Linked DNA regions of Homo sapiens. The protein of the gene in region 1 purifies or fractionates together with the protein of each later gene. This does not show direct contact. Each region holds a gene or a part of one and is shown in the gene's direction. Other genes may lie near its edges.

Evidence for each region.
Region 2: the proteins of TRA2A (region 1) and NCBP3 purify together in Homo sapiens (affinity purification with mass spectrometry; 3 studies listed by BioGRID and IntAct, with this or other methods). This does not show direct contact.
Region 3: the proteins of TRA2A (region 1) and RBBP6 purify together in Homo sapiens (affinity purification with mass spectrometry; 3 studies listed by BioGRID and IntAct, with this or other methods). This does not show direct contact.
Region 4: the proteins of TRA2A (region 1) and DAP3 purify together in Homo sapiens (affinity purification with mass spectrometry; 3 studies listed by BioGRID and IntAct, with this or other methods). This does not show direct contact.

Annotation. Positions count from the first base shown.
Region 1 is NC_000007.14:23,506,786-23,512,213, reverse strand, and holds part of TRA2A (transformer-2 protein homolog alpha), read left to right. Parts: intron 1-4,678; coding exon 4,679-4,794; intron 4,795-5,428. UniProt on the Homo sapiens protein: Sequence-specific RNA-binding protein which participates in the control of pre-mRNA splicing.
Region 2 is NC_000017.11:3,807,921-3,812,771, reverse strand, and holds part of NCBP3 (nuclear cap-binding protein subunit 3), read left to right. Parts: 3' UTR 1-117; coding exon of another isoform or gene 118-226; 3' UTR 227-4,851. UniProt on the Homo sapiens protein: Associates with NCBP1/CBP80 to form an alternative cap-binding complex (CBC) which plays a key role in mRNA export. NCBP3 serves as adapter protein linking the capped RNAs (m7GpppG-capped RNA) to NCBP1/CBP80.
Region 3 is NC_000016.10:24,569,541-24,573,689, forward strand, and holds the end of RBBP6 (E3 ubiquitin-protein ligase RBBP6), read left to right. Parts: coding exon 1-959; intron 960-1,335; coding exon 1,336-2,905; 3' UTR 2,906-3,323; downstream 3,324-4,149. UniProt on the Homo sapiens protein: E3 ubiquitin-protein ligase which promotes ubiquitination of YBX1, leading to its degradation by the proteasome.
Region 4 is NC_000001.11:155,694,566-155,699,416, forward strand, and holds part of DAP3 (small ribosomal subunit protein mS29), read left to right. Parts: exon of another isoform or gene 1-4,448; intron 4,449-4,851. UniProt on the Homo sapiens protein: As a component of the mitochondrial small ribosomal subunit, it plays a role in the translation of mitochondrial mRNAs. Involved in mediating interferon-gamma-induced cell death. Displays GTPase activity in vitro.

The DNA of each region.
Region 1 (5,428 bases):
GTCCTTTCTAATTTTGACCTGATTCAAACTCTGCCTCTCAGTGTTAACAATTGGAGTGACTACAGTTTCACTTTTTTTGGTTATGCTCTCTGCTATAGGCATATCCTAATTGAAATCTGGCTGTGTAAAGTGAGCTATATGTGTTTAAATTAATGGAAAAAGTATATGTGTAAGTGTTCTCTTTTGAATAAGCCATAATGATGCTCCAAACAGATGATTACATTAACTTTTAAAAAATAATTCTGATGTGTGGGTTTGATATGTTTAATTTTGTGTCTATAATGAGGAAGGAACTTGTTTTTCTATTCTCTAAATGTTCATTTATCAGTGTGTTCAATAATTGAAAAATAGTACATGGAAAGAATTGATAATTTTTTAGTGCTATTCTTAACTTGCCTAACACAATGAACTAATCAATGTCAATGACTTGAAATAGTGCTATTCTAACATGTTCGGTATTATAAAGGAAGTGGTAGGCTTGCTTTAAGTTTTTGCAGGGAGTCTTGCTGTGTTGCTTAGGCTGGTCTCGGAACAACTCCTGGCCTCAACTGTTCCTCCTGCCTTGGCTTCCCAAGGTGCTAGAATTACTGATGTGAACCACCATACCTGGCCTAGGCTCGCTTACTCTTTACTAAAAGTTGATAGTAATTGATTTAGAAAATTGCATTTTAAAGAATTTGAAGCTCAATACTTTTAGTTTTGTTAGACCTTCTGTCTTTTAAATTAATATATATATATTTGTATATATCTGGAAGTTTTATTAGACCTTAATAATCAGGGTGTTTTTCTTTTCTTTTCTTTTCTTTTTTTTTTTTTTTTTTTTTTTTTTTTTTTTTTTTTTTTGAGATGGAGTCTCGCTCTGTCGCCCAGGCTGGAGTGCAGTGGCGCGATCTCAGCTCACTGCAAGCTCTACCTCCCGGGTTCATGCCATTCTCCTGCCTCAGCCTCCCGAGTAGCTGGGACTACAGACGCCCGCCACCATGTCCAGCTAATTTTTTGTATTTTTAGTAGAGGCAGGGTTTCACTGTGTTAGCCAGGATGATCTCAATCTCCTGACCTCGTGATCCACCCGCCTCAGCCTCCCAAGGTGTTGGAATTACAGGTGTGAGCCACCGCGCCTGGCCAAATAAGGCTATCTTTTAAAAACAGTAAGTTCTTGGCATCTGGTGGGTAGAAGCCAGGAACACTGCTAAATAACCATACAGTACACAAGCTGGCACCCCATAACATAGAATCAGTCTCAAAATGTCAATAGTGCTAAGGTTGAGAAACCCCGGATAACTCTAACAAACTAGTACTTTAGTTTTTAAGTCATTTATGTCACAGGCAGTTTAATGCCTTAATTTGTCAGTCTTATGATTTTTTTTTTTACTGTTACGTATTTGTGATTTATATATTCCTTTTCTCAATTAAGAGATACATGTTATCAATTTAGAAATACTAGGATATCTGAGCTGAAGTAAAAGTTGCAAAATGCAAGCCAGAACAGTGTAATTTTTTTATTATTAATATTTTTTAATGTGAAACGTGTTTATCTCTTGATTCCACCTGTCCCCTTCCACTTCTGGATAAAACTAAAATGGCAGGCCGGGCACAGTGGCTCGCACCTTGTAATCCCAGCACTTCGGGAGGCTGAGGCGGGCAGATCACCTGAGGTCAGGAGTTCAAGACCAGCCTGGCCAACAGGGTGAAACCCCATCTGCTAAAATACAAAAATTAGCCGGGCATTGTGGCAAGCGCCTGTAACCCCAAGCTACTCGGGAGGCTGAGGCAGGAGAATTGCTTGAACCTAGGAGGCGGAGGTTGCAGTGAGCTAAGTTTGTGCCACTTCACTCCAGCCTGGGCAACAGAGTGAGACTCCACTTCATCTCAAAAAGAAAAGAAAAAAAAGCTTAACTGGCAACTTTAAAGACAGGAGCAGTTACTTAGTGGCAGGATTAGAAGTTCCTTTTAGTTCACTAGGTGACAATATGTTACTTAAGGAGCGGGGTGACGAGGCTTGTCAGCTAAATCACAGTTTCTCTTTTCAGTTGCCCAGGCTGAATTCTCAGCTAACACAGGCATGTTGTATGGTTTCTTCTGTATGGCTGAGACTGTCTCCAGTCTTTAGGGACAGGCAATCTGAAGTGATTTGATTTTTTTCTTTTTTTGTTGTTTGTTTGTTGTTTCTTTGTTTGTTTGGAGATGAGGTCTTGCTCTTTGCCCTGTCGCCTAGGCTGGAGTGTGGTGGCACGATCTCAGCTCACTGCAACTTCCGCCTCCCAGGCTCAAGTGATCTTCCCACCTTAGCCTCCCGAGTAGCTGGGACAACAGGTGCGCACCACCATGCCCGGCTAATTTTTGTATTTTTTGGTAGAGACGGGGTTTTGCCCCATTGCCCAGGCTAGCCTCAAACTCTGGACCTCAAGTGATTTGGCCTCCCCAAAGTGCCAGGATTACAGGCATGAGCCACTTCACTTGGCTAAAGTGATTTTTTTTTTTTGAGACGGAGTCTTGCTCTGTTGCCAGGCTGGAGGGCAGTGGCACAATCTCGGCTCACTGCAACCTCTGCCTCCCGGGTTCAAGCAATTCTGCCTCTGCCTCCCGAGTAGCTAGGACTATAGGTGCATGCCACCACACCCAGCTAATTTTTGTATTTTTAGTAGAGATGGGGTTTCACCATGTTGGCCAGGATGGTCTTGATCTCTTGATACCTCATGATCCCCCCATCTTGGCCTCCCAAAGTGCTGGGAGTACAGGTGTGAGCCATCGCGCCCAGCCTAAAGTGATTTTTAAAATCTTTTTAAAATTTGTATTCCTTTTTGACTAACTTCTCCCTGATTCTGAAAATTTCACTGAAGTTTCAAAGTTATTAGTGTGCATATGGTGAAGATAATAATATAAGCTCCTCACCCTGTTTTAGTAAGAAGTACTTAGAGATTTTGTGTGTGTTTTTTTGGGGGGTGCTTAGGATGGGGTGCAGGGAGATCAACTTAGAGAATTTTGATTTTTGGAACTTCAAATGGAAGATGTGTTAAATTTGTTGCAGCTTTGCTTTTGCAGACATTTATGTGATGTAAAGTTCTTTTTAAAAATTGGACCGGGTGTGGTGGCTCATGCCTCTAATCCCAGCACTTTGGCAAGAGGATTTACTTGAGCCCAGGAGTTTGAGACCAGCCTGGGGAAACATAGGGAGACTTGGTCTCTACAAATATATATATGTGTGTGAGAGAATAGGAAAAAAAAATTGTCCCAGAAACAAATAATACTCTCAGAGTTCTTTTCAAAGAGACCAAAGAGACAACTCTTATCTTCAAGAATTAGGCTGTGCAAGGCGGCTCATGCTATTTGGGAGGCTGAGGTGGGAAGGCCACTTGAGGCCACGAGTTAAGAGACCAGCCTGGGCAACAGATCTTGTCTCTACAAAAATAAATGCATGCAGGCCAGGCGTGGTGGCTTACGCCTGTAATCCCAGCACTTTGGGAGGCCAAGGCAGGAGGATCACAAGGTCAAGAGATCGAGACCATCCTGGCCAACATGGTGAAACCCCATCTCTACTAAAAATACAAAAAATTAGCTGGGCATGGTGGCGCATGCCTGTAGTCCCAGCTACTTGGGAGGCTGAGGCAGGAGAATCACTTGAACCTGGGAGGCAGAGGCTGCAGTGAACCGAGGTCACGCCATTGCACTCCAGCCTGTGCAACAAGAGCGAAACTTGGTCTCATAAATAAATAATAAAATGCATTCCATTGAATGGAATACTGTTTAGACCCCTTCTCTACCAAGAATTTTTGTTTTAATTAGCCGAGCATGGTGGCACAAACCTGTGGTCCTAGCTACTTAGGAGACTAAGGCTGGAGGATTGCATAAGCCAAGAAGTTTGAGGCCACAGTGAACTATGATCCACTGCCAGCCTGGGCAATGGAGTGAGACCTCCTTTTTTTTTTTTTTTTTTTTTTAATGACCTTTAGTTTATGGGACACTCTTACGGAGAAATATTTGTGGATACATAAAAATTGTGTAGTTTTTATTAGTTTATTATACTTTTATTAGTTCAGTCTCAATAAAAGGTTGAAAGGCATTACGATAAATTTGTTCTTGTCTGTTTATATCATTTCTTCTTGGCTGCTCACTGAGTCTTAATCAGTGTACTAGACTGCAAACTAAAGAATAAGATTGGGGGCAGGTTATAAAAAGAACATGTATAAAGCTTAGCAAACCCTTTTTAATGTTCTGAAGTCAGTCTTTGTAAGTGAAATCGCTGGAGACTAGAAAGTATGAAATGGCAGTCTACCTGGGCAACCTACAAAAAATTTAGCTTGAAAAGACTTCAGTCTCCGCTCCCCTGTTGATCTCATGGAGTGGGGAATGGGAATTGAACCAGAACTGGAAAATTATTTAGGAAAGTTTGTTAACTACTCTTTGTTGATCTCATGGAGTGGGGAATGGGAATTGAACCAGAACTGGAAAATTATTTGGGAAAGTTTATTAACTACTCTTTCTGCTGAGTAAATTTAAATGTGTTCTGGACATTGTTGAGGTCTAGAATTGTCTATACAATGCCCTGTACAAGCTACATTGCTGTCATTTTCAAAATCAGGAGTTTATTTGGATTACATATACTTTGTGCTTAATTTTAAGTAATGATTACTTCAAGACTGGTGAATTATACGTGACTTTTTGTGCCTGTTCTTTATAGGCTATGGAAAGGGCAAATGGAATGGAGCTGGATGGTAGAAGAATTCGGGTGGATTATTCTATAACCAAGAGAGCGCACACACCAACACCAGGCATCTACATGGGCAGACCAACTCAGTAAGAGTTCAAGTTTCCTAAGCTAAACTATGAAATCCACCAGAAATATGTGCAAAATTTTGATTACTCAGAAACTTTTTTCCTATAATTAGAATTGATTCTGGCAAGGGGCAACATGGCAAAACCCTGCTTCTACTAAAAAAAAATAAAAAATCAGCCAGGTGTGGTGGCACATGCCTGTAATCCCAGCTGCTCGGGAGCTGAGGCACAGGAATCACTTGAACTTGGGAGGCAGAGGTTGCAGTGAGCCTGGGCAACAGAGTGAGACTCTTTCTCAAAAAAGAAAAAAAACATAAGTAGGGGTTTTGATAATGTTTTTAAATATACAACCCTCCTGGCTGGCTCACGATGTTCATTTGCCGGGCGCAGTGGCTTACACCTGTAATCCCAGCACTTTGGGAGGCCGAGGCGGGTGGATCACGAGATCACGAGATCGGGACCACGGTGAAACCCCGTCTCTACTAAAAATACAAAAAATTGGCTGGGCATGGTGGCAGGCACCTGTAGTCCCAGCTACTCAGGAGGCTGAGGCAGGAGAATGGCATGAACCCCGGAGGCAGGGCTTGCAGTGAGCCGAGATCGCACCACTGCACTCCAGCCTGGGCGACAGAGCAAGACTCCGTCTCAAAAAATA
Region 2 (4,851 bases), on another chromosome or scaffold:
ATTTTGTAGACATTTTTCTTAATATTTTTAACATTGTGTCTTTTAAAAGAAATGTTTTACACAGTTCATCCAAAGAGCAGAGAACTGAACTTCTCACTATTGCCTTGGCCCTGACAGCTGTTACCAGCACCCTTTTCCCAAGAAAAGTCAATTCCCAGGTGCTTATTGGACATCCTTCGAGGGGGAAGAGGAGGGAAGCGGCCAGCTCACCCTTCCGGGACCCTAGTGTGGGGCGAATCTCACGGACCTGACCTCAGAGGTGCACCAGTGCCGCCCAGGTAGATAAGAGCTGCAGCATTGACTGTGCTTCCGTTCTTCCCTCGGGGATTGCTCATGGCATGGGCCTCTTACGTGCTGTCAGCTTGATGTGAAGATCAAGTTCAGTGCTGTGGGATTTTTAGGAACAAAAAACTGTGACGTCTGGATTTGGGGTTGATTTTTGTGCTGGGGTGGGATTATGGGTCAATGTTGAAGAATTTTTAAGTCTGTATTATGTTTAAAACATGAATGATTTGAAAGTTTAAATTTTTAATTTTTATATGTGGAAATTCTTCCTGTTGGCTAAAGGGGAAGCTCAAGTGGTGTCGTCTTTTGTGCTGTTAAATATATATTCTATTCTTTGGAAGAAGGCAGAGAGAGGAGTCTTATTATTTTTAAATGCTCCTAGTTGTATAGTCTGTCTGTTGTACATAGAGTTCAGCTTGTTTTTTGGCTCCAGTAGGAAAAAAAATCCATCCATCTGAGATGGGGTCCTGTTGTTTATTATCACTCTAGAAGTTATACATTGATATTTATTCTTTCTGTCCCCACGTTGTGGCACCTGAAGACATCTTCAAAATTGGCAGAAAAGATAATAGTTATAAAAATTTTAGTTCATTTATTTTTAAACTCCTTTCAGATTATTTTACCATTAGGAGGAGGTAGATTGTTTCGTCTTCCTGTCTGATTTTTGTTTTGTAGTATTTAATTTTGTATTCCTCTGCAGTTTTAAGAAACAGTGTTTTTCTTCGGTTTGCTGGAACATGGGCGTTAGAGATGGTAATAAACCGTGGTCCTTTTTGCGATGTCACGACTCTTCACCTGCCTGGGCTGTTGTGCACACAGTGCAGCCTGGATCCTGTCGATCTTTACTTGTGGCGGAGCTAATGGTCACATTGATAGTTGATTACACTGTGGCACGAATTAATGCAGAACACTGTTATTAATAAAGGAAGTAAAGGGCTGCAAGATTTGAGAGCTGCAACAAAAACTGTATTGTCCCATATTTTGTTGATTAACCTTGCTTTTTCTCCCTCCCTTTAGAGAGATTAGAGGATATAACCATGATATATTTCAGCTTCTTATTAGGATTCTAGGAAAGAGATGGTTCTGGTTTCTCTGCCAGTTGAGACTTAAGACATCTGAGATTTCTCAGCTTTTCTTTCCCTGTGAAGCATACAGCTGAGAGCCAGGTTCTTAGGAAGGGTCAGGGTTTGGGGAGTTGGTAGAGTGAGGAGTGCGGGGGCCTGAGAATCGGACACCTGGATGCCAACCCCTGGCTCTGCTCCATGGACCTGGGCCTCAGTTTTCCCGTCTAGCAGTTGAGTGGGCTGTTACCAGAATTCCTGGCTTTGTTGGTGCATCTCAGTGGCGGTTTACTCTTCCCAAGCTGTGACGGCAGTGGGCTCGCCAGCATGAATTTCTACTGCAGGTGGAGGAGGCGCCAGGGAGACAACTGAGGGCGCGCATGAGGTGTAGACAGGGGCTTATTCCCATCCCAGCACAGTCTCTGCTTCTACTGACGGGGCAAAGATGTCTTGTGGTCAGCGTCCCAGCTGGCATGCCTCTGCAGGGTTTAGAATATGCTCCTTCACAGACTTTCCTTTTGGTTTTACACCAGCAGCTCAGGTCCATTTGTTCCACGGCCTTTCAGCACTCAGCAGTCTCCTGCTACAGATCAGCGAAGCCATTCTGGAAGGAGGTGGTGTGCAGTCAAAACTGGGTCTTTGATGTAACCAAGAGAAATACACACTCGAGTAACCTTACAGTTTTCACAGACACACAGAGAGAACCCAGAAAGGCAGCTTTAAAGATTTTTACTTCTCGGAGTTACTGGCCTTATTAGTTTCTCTAACCCTCCTGCCCACTCTCAGTCACTCAGATCTTGCAACATCTTGAGTGTGTCCTGAATGATGAGGCCTTTTCTTTGGAGTTTAAGAGTAAGAATGGATAGTCAGGACAGGCCCGTGGCAGGCAGCTGGGCGTGATTTTACCCTGGACACTCCCCACACATGTGGGCACAGGGCTGCACACTTTGTGTGTTCCTCTTAGTCTTATGTGTAGGAGATTTTACATACATGTTTGCTGCTTGATGATAATTGCAGATACCTCATTTGTTTCCCACTCTCCTCTCTGGAGAGTTACCAGGTACCCAGGATAATTTGTGGCGTCCTCAGGATGTAGTCTCCTCCTCTGGCCCCCTTGTAGTCTGATCCTGTGAACCCCTCTCCGTTCTTCAGCCACTGCCCTTTCCAGCTGCATTTGTACAGCAGCCTCTTCACTGGTCTCTGCCCTGTCTCCATTCTGCACACTGCAGCGGGATGAACCTTTGTTGTTGTTACCAGCTTAATTTAGATGTAATTTGCATACAGTTCAGCCATTTAAAGTGTACACTTGAGTGGCTTTTAGTATATTTACAGTTATGCACCAGCACCGTAATCAATTTTAAAACACTTTGATCACCCAAAGAAACCCTGAGTCCATTAGCAATTCTCCCTATTCCCTCTTCCCTCTTAGCCTCTGGCCACCACTGATCTTCCTTCTCTCTCTGTGGATTTGCCTGTTCTGGATAGTTCATATAAATGGGATCATATACTATGTGTCTATTTGTGACTGGCTTCTTAACATATTTCTGAGGTTCATCCATGTCATAGCTTCTATCAGTATTTCATTTTTTAAAATTGCCAAATAATAGTCCATTTTATGGGTATGCCACCTTTTTTTTAATCCACATTGGTTAATGGGCATTTGAGTTGTTTCTACTTTAGGGCTATATATATATATTTCTATTTCTATTATTTATTTTTGAGACACAGTTTCGCTCTTGTTGTGCAGGCTGGAGTGCAATGGCACGATCTCGGCCCACTGCAACCTCCACCTCCGGGGTTCAAGCGATTCTCCTGCCTCAGCCTCCAGAGTAGCTGGGATTACAGGCATGTGCCACCACGCTGGCTAATTTTTTGTATTTTTAGTAGAGACAGGGTTTCACCATGTTGGTCAGGCTGGTCTCGAACTCCTGACCTCAGGTGATCTGCCCACCTCTTCCTCCCAAAGTTCTGGGATTACAGGTGTGAGCCACTGCACCTGGCCCTACTTTTTGGCTATTATGAATAGTGTTGCTACGAACATTCCCGAACAAGTTTTTGCAGGGACAGGTATTTTCATGACTCTTGGGTATATACCTAGGAGTGGAATTGCTGAGTCATAATTATCTTTAACCTTTTCAGGAACCACCAGGTGGTTTTTCCAAGCAGCTGTATCATTTTCCATTCCACCAGCAGTGTGCGAGGGTTCCAGTTTCTCCACATCTCCACCAACACTCATTATTTTCTGGTGTGAAGTGGTATCTCATTGTAGTTTTTTGTTTTTATTTTTTCTTTTTAAAATACATTTTGTACAGATGGGGTTTCGTTATGTTGCCCAGGCCGTCTAGCACTCCTGGCCTCAAGTGATCCTCCTGCCTTGACCTCCCAAAGTGCCGAGATTACAGGCATGAGCCACCACGCCTGGCTCTCATTGTGGTTTTGATTTGTATTTCCCTAATGACTAATGATGTCGGGCACCTTTTCACATGCTTCAGGATGAACTTTCTTAAATATATATCTGATTCTGTTATTCCTCTGCTTGAACGTTTTCCAAAGCTTCACTATTGCCCCGAGAATAAATTCCACACTCCTGATCGCATGAGCCCAGTAATTCAAGGCTGTGGTGAGCTATGATCAAGCCACTGCACTCCAGCCTGGGCAGCAGAGCAAGACCTGTCTCAAAAAATACATACATACATAAATTCCACCCTTTTTGATAGCATGTTATGAGGCTCACCAAGGTCTATCCTCTGGCAGTATCCCTGGCCTGTTCTCCCCATCTCCCCTGCCCTCTGCTCACCAGTTCCCTAAATGTATCTTGATCTCACTAGCCCTACAGACTGTGCACAGAGCTGTTTCTACCTCCAGTGACATGCTTCCGCCCAGGCTTCTCCCCCTCCCGCCTCAATCTTCCCCTCACCAACTTAAGGTCTTAGGGGCCCTTCTAGGAGGCAGTCCCCAACTTCCAGAGCCAGGGTATAGGCTACTTCTATGTGTCCCATGGTACTGCCACAGAAGAGTCTCAGCTCTCTCCAGGATTCAGTTCTAAGGTCAGTGCCTAAGATAAAAATGGAGTGTAATTAAAATTCCTCTTAGAAATCTAAGGAAGGTGCCCTATTGAAGACCAACATCTTGAGGTCCCATGTAGTCATTTCTTGCCCATGTGGGAACACATTACTGTTTGGTTGAGTACCAGGTGAAGTGATTGGCCTGCAGTTAGGGCTGTGTTGTGCAAAAATCACTTGTTTTGGGGTGTTAGAACCACATTTAGGCGAGAAGATCACTTTTGGGGAGCTTGGGAACTGAGGCAGGCCGCAGGTGCAGCAGAGGCATGAGCTTGCCCGGGCCCGCCCTCTTGTCTATGCTCATGGAGTGAAGGAGGGGCCAGCGGAATGGCCCAAACAACTGATTTGTTTTTCTTTTTTTAAATCTTTTTCAGACAAATACCATTGTGTTTAAGCGAAATGTGTGTATAATGCCAAATCACTGTACCCCACAACCCTGCACA
Region 3 (4,149 bases), on another chromosome or scaffold:
CCAGAGTTATTAGAGACTTCTAGGAAATCAAGAGAACCTACAGGTGTTGAAGAAAATAAAACAGACTCATTGTTTGTTCTCCCAAGTAGAGATGATGCCACACCTGTTAGAGATGAACCAATGGATGCAGAATCAATCACTTTTAAATCAGTGTCTGAAAAAGACAAGAGAGAAAGGGATAAACCAAAAGCAAAGGGTGATAAAACCAAACGGAAGAATGATGGATCTGCTGTGTCCAAAAAAGAAAATATTGTAAAACCTGCTAAAGGACCCCAAGAAAAAGTAGATGGAGAACGTGAGAGATCTCCTCGATCTGAACCTCCAATTAAAAAAGCCAAAGAGGAGACTCCGAAGACTGACAATACTAAATCATCATCTTCCTCTCAGAAGGATGAAAAAATCACTGGAACCCCCAGAAAAGCTCACTCTAAATCAGCAAAAGAACACCAAGAAACAAAACCAGTCAAAGAGGAAAAAGTGAAGAAGGACTATTCCAAAGATGTCAAATCAGAAAAGCTAACAACTAAGGAAGAAAAGGCCAAGAAGCCTAATGAGAAAAACAAACCACTTGATAATAAGGGAGAAAAAAGAAAAAGAAAAACTGAAGAAAAAGGCGTAGATAAAGATTTTGAGTCTTCTTCAATGAAAATCTCGAAACTAGAAGTGACTGAAATAGTGAAACCATCACCAAAGCGCAAAATGGAACCTGATACTGAAAAAATGGATAGGACCCCTGAAAAGGACAAAATTTCTTTAAGTGCGCCAGCCAAAAAAATCAAACTCAACAGAGAAACTGGGAAGAAAATTGGAAGTACAGAAAATATATCAAACACAAAAGAACCCTCTGAAAAATTGGAGTCAACATCTAGCAAAGTTAAACAAGAAAAAGTCAAAGGAAAGGTCAGACGAAAAGTGACTGGAACTGAAGGATCCAGCTCAACTCTGGTGGATTACACCAGGTAGCTGAGTGTAGGGGGTGGGTGTGGAACTTTGTTGGGAGAAGGATTTTCTTCAGTTTTATCCATGCTTGTGCTTTTTATATTAATTATGAATGCTGATCTAGGGAAGTAGGCTGGTTTTATGTAGTCTTTTGTTGTCTTTGAAGAAGGGAATTGCCAAAGACAAGGTTGTAAATAGATTTTGGGGGTGAGCCACATTTGTGTTGATACAATCATAATCTTAAATTGTGTGTCTTCCTTAGGGCAGAATAAGTTTTTTGTTTTTTTTAATGTTAAAAGGACATTTGTGTTTAAGTTAGCATTTTTATATTTATCAGTGTTTTATAATTAATAGTAAATTCTTCATTAATTAAAAATATTTTGTTATTCTTTTTAGTACGAGCTCAACTGGAGGCAGTCCTGTGCGGAAATCTGAAGAAAAAACAGATACAAAGCGAACTGTGATTAAAACGATGGAAGAATATAATAATGACAATACCGCGCCAGCTGAAGATGTTATCATTATGATTCAGGTTCCTCAATCCAAATGGGATAAAGATGACTTTGAATCTGAAGAAGAAGATGTTAAATCCACACAGCCTATATCAAGTGTAGGAAAACCTGCTAGTGTTATAAAAAATGTTAGTACAAAGCCATCAAATATAGTCAAGTATCCTGAGAAAGAAAGTGAGCCATCCGAGAAAATTCAGAAATTCACCAAGGACGTGAGCCATGAAATCATACAACATGAGGTTAAAAGTTCAAAAAACTCTGCATCTAGTGAAAAAGGGAAAACCAAAGATCGAGATTATTCAGTGTTGGAAAAGGAGAACCCTGAAAAGAGGAAGAACAGCACTCAGCCAGAGAAAGAGAGTAATTTGGACCGTCTGAATGAACAAGGAAATTTTAAAAGTCTGTCTCAATCTTCCAAAGAGGCTAGAACGTCAGATAAACATGATTCCACTCGTGCTTCCTCAAATAAAGACTTCACTCCCAATAGAGACAAAAAAACTGACTATGACACCAGAGAGTATTCAAGTTCCAAACGTAGAGATGAAAAGAATGAATTAACAAGACGAAAAGACTCTCCTTCTCGGAATAAAGATTCTGCATCTGGACAGAAAAATAAACCAAGGGAAGAGAGAGATTTGCCTAAAAAAGGAACAGGAGATTCCAAAAAAAGTAATTCTAGTCCCTCAAGAGACAGAAAACCTCATGATCACAAAGCCACTTATGATACTAAACGGCCAAATGAAGAGACAAAATCTGTAGATAAAAATCCTTGTAAGGATCGTGAGAAGCATGTATTAGAAGCAAGGAACAATAAAGAGTCAAGTGGCAATAAACTACTTTATATACTTAACCCACCAGAGACACAGGTTGAAAAAGAGCAAATTACTGGGCAAATTGACAAGAGTACTGTCAAGCCTAAACCCCAGTTAAGTCATTCCTCTAGACTTTCCTCTGACTTAACTAGAGAAACTGATGAAGCTGCTTTTGAACCAGACTATAATGAAAGTGACAGTGAAAGTAATGTTTCTGTAAAAGAAGAGGAATCTTCAGGAAACATTTCTAAGGACCTGAAAGATAAAATAGTGGAGAAAGCAAAAGAGAGCCTGGACACAGCAGCAGTTGTCCAGGTGGGCATAAGCAGGAATCAGAGCCACAGCAGCCCCAGCGTCAGCCCCAGCAGAAGCCACAGTCCTTCTGGAAGCCAGACCCGAAGCCACAGTAGCAGTGCCAGCTCAGCAGAAAGTCAGGACAGCAAGAAGAAGAAGAAAAAGAAGGAAAAGAAAAAACACAAGAAACATAAAAAGCATAAGAAGCATAAGAAACATGCAGGCACTGAAGTGGAATTGGAAAAAAGCCAAAAACACAAACACAAGAAAAAGAAGTCAAAGAAGAACAAAGATAAAGAGAAGGAGAAGGAGAAAGATGACCAAAAAGTGAAATCTGTCACTGTGTAAAAAGACAGATTTTTTAAATTGACTTAATTACTAAGTCATCTGTATTAAATTTTGTTATAATGTAAAGAGATTCAAGCCTTGTAAATAATGACATGGAAGACCCTGTGCTGCACTTAAAATATTGCTGCTTGATTATTTGATTTTTACATCAGAGCTTTATAACACGAACTTTTGTACAGAATTGTGAGTTGTGACCATGTAACATGAGAGGTTTTGCTAGGGCCTATTATTTTTAACCACCATTAATTAGTTGGGGTGGAGTTTACTGTAATGTGAAATTTTCACATTTGAATTTTTTAATTGCCTGGCAAAAGCTGATATAAGTTCTAAAATATCAGCAGAATGATTTGCTGAATTCATTACAACCCTGTTATGTCACTTTTTGATTACAATAAAAGTTTTCAGTAAACTTTTCAAATGTTGAGTATTTGCATTATTTACAGAAAGTAGTGCCATATCTGTATACTTAACCCACCAGATGCAGGTTGTATGTGTGTCTCCATTTTCCTATTTTAAAATTCTTAGTTTTTAATACAAGCTGAACTGAATATACAGAATTCTAAATTAAACATGGAAGATACATTTCATAGGTGGGCAGGTGGTAGAGGCCAGAAATGAATCAGGATTAATTGGAGATGTGGTTAAATAAATCTAGGAGAGTCTTGAATTACATAGAAATTCGAAGTTTGAACTTTCAAAATGGTTTGGATTTGAATATTAGAGATGCAGAATTGTGACTCGTTTATGGCCACGTATTTTTCTGGAAACCCTGATAAATAAGTATTAAATTCCTTGATAAAGGAGAATGCAGCTAAACCAGTGAGTGCTTGTGGCCTACCCAATCTGCCCAGTTGACAAGCAAGCGGTCATTACTTACGATGAGTTTCCTTTATTGCTGTGGTTCGGGAAGTGTACCTGGGGACAGTGAAAAGGTACTGAAAGGATGTGGGGAATGAGGGAGAGTAGGAATGGCACTTTAGAAACATAGTGGTATAAGTAGGGATTGAGATAATCTTTTTTTTTCTTATTTGAGATGGAGTCTCACTTTTTTTTTTTTTTTTTAATTGATGATTCTTGGGTGTTTCTCGCAGAGGGGGATTTGGCAGGATCGTAGGACAATAGTGGAGGGAAGGTCAGCAGATAAACAAGTGAACAAAGGTCTCTGGTTTTCCTAGGCAGAGGACCCTGCGGCCTTCCGCAGTGTTTGTGTCCCTGGGTACTTGAGATTAGGGAGTGGTGATGAC
Region 4 (4,851 bases), on another chromosome or scaffold:
CTTGATGGGTTTTGTTGGTCTTCATCTGGTTGGCTGAAATGTTCATTCGAGCCATCAGGCGTGCTGGGAGTGGAGATCTTGGTTCCAAAATCCTTTTCTCTTCTTTGGAAATTTGCTCATGGTAGAATTTAAGATGTCTTGTAGGTACCCAAACTGGAAGCTGGTTTTCTTCTGGGGAAATACAAACAAACCCTCTTCCCCATGTTATATCTCTCTTTTTCCCAGGTCTTTGTTTTAAAGTCCTTCCACCACACAGGTTTTCCTTCATGAACATTTACCTTCTGTCCTGTTAAATGCTCTTCAGCTGCTATAGTAACCTGATTGCGGAAGATGTTCAAAAAATTTAAGGTAACAAGAGCCAATTGTAACTGCATATGAGGGGTGGAATATTCCCTATCTCCCCCTATTTTCTTTTTATGTAATTGCATTTTTAAGGTTCAGTTGGCTCGCTCAACAATCGCTTGCCTTTGAGAATTATAGGGGATAACCGTACTGTGTTCAATGCTCTGTTGTTTTAAAAATGTTTGGAAAGATCTACTACAGTAGCCTGGTCTGTTGTCTGTTTTTAATTTTTGTGGAATTCCCATGACAGTAAAACAGGAAAGCAAGTGTCTTTTTATATGTGTTGTAGTCTGGCTGGTTTGGCAAGTAGACCATATAAATGAGAATATGTATCTATGGTCACATGGACATAAGAAAGTTTGCCAAATGCAGGAATGTGGGTGACGTCCATTTGCCAGATCATGTTAGGTGCCAACCCTCGAGGGTTAACACCAGTTCCTTGATACGGTAGTTGCAGTACCTGGCACTGAGGACGATGTTGTACAATGTCCTTGGCCTGTTTCCACATAATTTGATAGTTGTTTGTAAGTCCTGTTACATTAAGGTGTGTTAATGAGTGGAAAGTCTGGGCATCAGTAAGTATGGGGGAAACCAACAAGTCAGCTTGCTCATTAGCCTCAGTCAAGGGTCCTGGAAGATTGGTATGTGCTCGGATATGAGTTATATAGAAAGGAAAATCCCGAGCACACACAGCTGTTTGTAAAGAGTTGAACAATTGATAAAGCTGTTTATCAATAATATATTTAATTAAGGCAGTTTCAATATGCTGAGTAGCTTATACAACATAAGCTGAATCTGAAACAGTATTAACTGGCTGATTAAAATCTTCTAATACTGCAATCATTGCCTGTAATTTAGCTCTTTGGACTGAGGAAGAGTTAGTGTGGATAACTTTACCACAAGGTCCCACATATGCCGCTTTCCCAGTACTGGAGCCATCAGTAAAAACAATCATGGCTCCTTCCAAAGGGGCATCACGAGTAATTTTCGGAAGAACCTATGTAGTTAATTTTAAGAACTGGAAAATTTTATTTTTAGGATGATGATTATCAATACATTCAATAAATTCTGCTAAATTAACTTGCCATGTAACTGAGTTAATAAATGCCTGCTTAATGTGACTTTTATTTATTGGAACTATAATCTTATTGGGCTCAGTGCCATAAAGTTTAACAATTTGCATATGAGCCTGTCCAATTAAAATTGTGATCTGATCTACATAGACTGTAAGTGTTTTCATGGTATTATATGGCAAAAAAGACCATTCAACCAAATCATTATTTTGAACAATAACCCTCATTGAGGAGTGTGAAGTAGGGAACACAATGAATTGAAAAGGCAAGACTGAGTCAATCCTACTAACCTGGGCTTGCTGAATTTTTTTTTTTCAATTACTCTTAACTCATTCATGGCCTTGGGTGTTAATTCTCTTTTATGGTGTAAGTTGCAATCTCCCCTCAATATTTAGAAAATATTAGACATAGCATAAGTAGAAATTCCTAAGGTGGGCTGAATCCAATTAATGTCTCCTAACAATTTTTGAAAATCATTTAAGGTTTTTAAAGAATCTTTTCTGATTTGAACCTTTTGAGGCTTAATGGCTCTATCTTGTACTTGTATCCCCAAATATTGAAAAGGAAGAGTTGTTTGAATTTTGTCAGGTGTTATAAGCAATCCAGCATTTGTAATTGCCTTTTGCAAAGATGAATAACATTGAATAAGTTGGTCTCTATTTTTTGTTGCACATAGTATGTCATCCATATAATGAATGATGTAACAATCTGGAAATTGATCTCTAACTAGCTGGATAGCTTTGCCTACAAAAGTTTGACAAACTGTGGAACTGTTTAACATACCTTGGGGTAAAACCTTCCAATGATATCTGGCTGCAGGTTCTTTGTTATTAATGGCAGGGATAGTAAAGGCAAATTTTTCAAAATCTGTCTCTGCCAAAGGAATTGTAAAGAAGCAGTCTTTTAAATCTATAATAACAAGCAGCCAGTCTTTAGGGAGCATGGTGGGGGATGGGAGCCCTGGTTGTAAAGCTCCCATTGGTTGCATTACAGCGTTGACCTCTTGCAAGTCGGTCAGCATGCACCATCTACCATACTTTTTTTAAAATTACATATACTGGGGAATTCCAAGGAGAGAAAGTGGGTGAAATATATCCTTTTTCTAGTAGTTTTTTAACTATTTCATGGAACGCCCCCAAGTTTTTCTGAGGGAGCGGCCACTGTTCGACCCAGACAGGATGCTGCAGGGTGAGCCTGAATTGCTTCTTCACCATAGTGAACTGCAGGTTGGGCAGTAATGGGTGCGGCAAGCTGAGTTTCAGGCTCCCTCCCCCTGCACTCACTCAGCTGAGGAGGAGGTGGCCATTCCGGACATTTCTCTGAAGAAGCTGCGGGCTGAACAATTTTCTGTGTAGGTTTAGGGAGACCGGGGGGATTGGTAGAAATCACCTCCGGTATCGGGGGAACCAGCCCCCAATATTTCAACATAGGTTCTATTTTCCGTAAGTGTGCCAGTCTGAGAAATAAAGAGAAAGAGTGCAAAAGAGAAATTCTACAGCTGGGTCTCCGGGGGTGACATCACATTTCAGCAGGTTCCATGATGCCCCTGAGCCGCAAAACCAGCAAGTTTTTATTATGGATTTCAAAAGGGGAGGGGTGTACGAATAGGGAGTGGGTCACAGAGGTCACATGCTTCAGAGGCAGTAAAATATCACAAAGGCAGAGAGGCAGAGCGAGATCACAAGGCCAGGGCGAAACTAGAATTACTGATGAAGGTCCATGTCCCGCTGGGCACATTGGACGTTGATATTGATAAACATCTTAACAGGAAACAGGGTTCGAGAGCAGACAACCGATCTGACTAGAATTCGCCAGGCTGGAATTTCCTAATCCTAGCAAGCCTGAGGGTGCTGCAGGAGACCAGGGCATATTTCATCCCTTATCTCCAACTGCATAAGACAGACACTCCCAGAGCAGCGATTTTACAGATGTCTCCCTGGGAATGCATTCGTTTTCCCAGGGTTATTCCTTGCTGAGAAAAGAATTCAGCGATATTTCTCCTATTCGCTTTCTGAAAGAAGAGAAATATGACTCTGTTCTGCCTGGCCCCACAGGCAGTCAGACTTTATGGTTATCTCCCTTGTTCCCCGAAAATCGTTGTTATCCTGTTCTTTTCAAGGTGCCCAGATTTCACATTATTCAAACACAAATGCTTTACAAACAATTTGTACAGGTAATGCAATCATCACAGGGTCCTCAGGCGATATACATCCCCAGCTTACGAAGATGACGGGATTAAGAGATTAAAGTAAAGACAGGCATAGGAAATTATAAGAGTATTGATTGGGGAGGTGATAAATGTCCATGAAATCTTCACAATTTATGTTCAGAGATTACAGTAAAGACAGGTGTAAGAAATTATAAAAGTATTAATTTAGGGAACTAACAAATGTCCATGAAATCTTCACAATTTATGTTCTTCTGCCATGGCTTCAGCCGGTCCCTCTGTTTGGGGTCCCTGACTTCCTGCAACACTCTGGACTCTCCCTTTTTATTAGTACTTGGTAGGGGTGGTTCAGAGTCCTGATCATTAAACTCCTCTCTCTCCTCTGACTCAGCCTCATCATCTATCTGAAAAGCCTCCAGTGCTGTACACACCAATGACCAAACTGACCAAACAGGCAAAGGAATTTCCTTTCCCTTTCTTTGTGCTCTTTTAAGGTCCTTTCCAATTCTTTCCCAATCTTTCAATTCCAAAGTTCTCTGTTCCGGGAACCAAGGGCAAAATTGTTCCACAGCATAAAACAAATCCATAAGATTTTTTGTATCAACTTTTACACCACTACGCTTCAAGAGCTGCCATAGCAAGCTCAAATACATGGCGTACTTACTTTCAGTTTGTCCCATTTGTGTCCCTAGCTTTCTCCAAGTGCCCCGCTCACCTGCGGAGCTTAAAACTTTTTCGTCTTTGGGAGTCCTTTGTCTGTCGGTCCTCCATTTCACACGCTTGAGCATGCCTTCACTGGATTCTTTCGGGCCTCATGTTGGGCACCAGAATGTAGGGGACCAGCCTCAACACCATCCGTAGGGTACCTGAAGTCCGGTGGCGACAAAGGAATGAGAAGAGACAGGTTAAGAGTTCATAAAGGTGGGAGCCAGGGGGCCAGTTGCAAAATGGAGGCTGCAAAAGGCCCAGAGTTCTGGTCTCTACACTATTTATTGAGTATAATCACTTAGATCTAAGAAGCAGATGTTCAGGGCAAAACTGTGAAAGGGAGGCAGTACGTCATACACGTAATGTGTAGCAGAGGCGGTTTAAGTGAATCTCCTTTGTGCTCAAGCAGCATATCTTTAGTTAGCTGGTGGGAGTGGGCTTAACTAGGAGCCTGCATATCTAGCCACATTCCAATGCTTCAGAGGAGCGTCTTTCTTCTTGAGCACAGTGTTTATAGATAAGAGAGCAGGTTGTGCTCAGAGCATGGGAACATAATGGTGA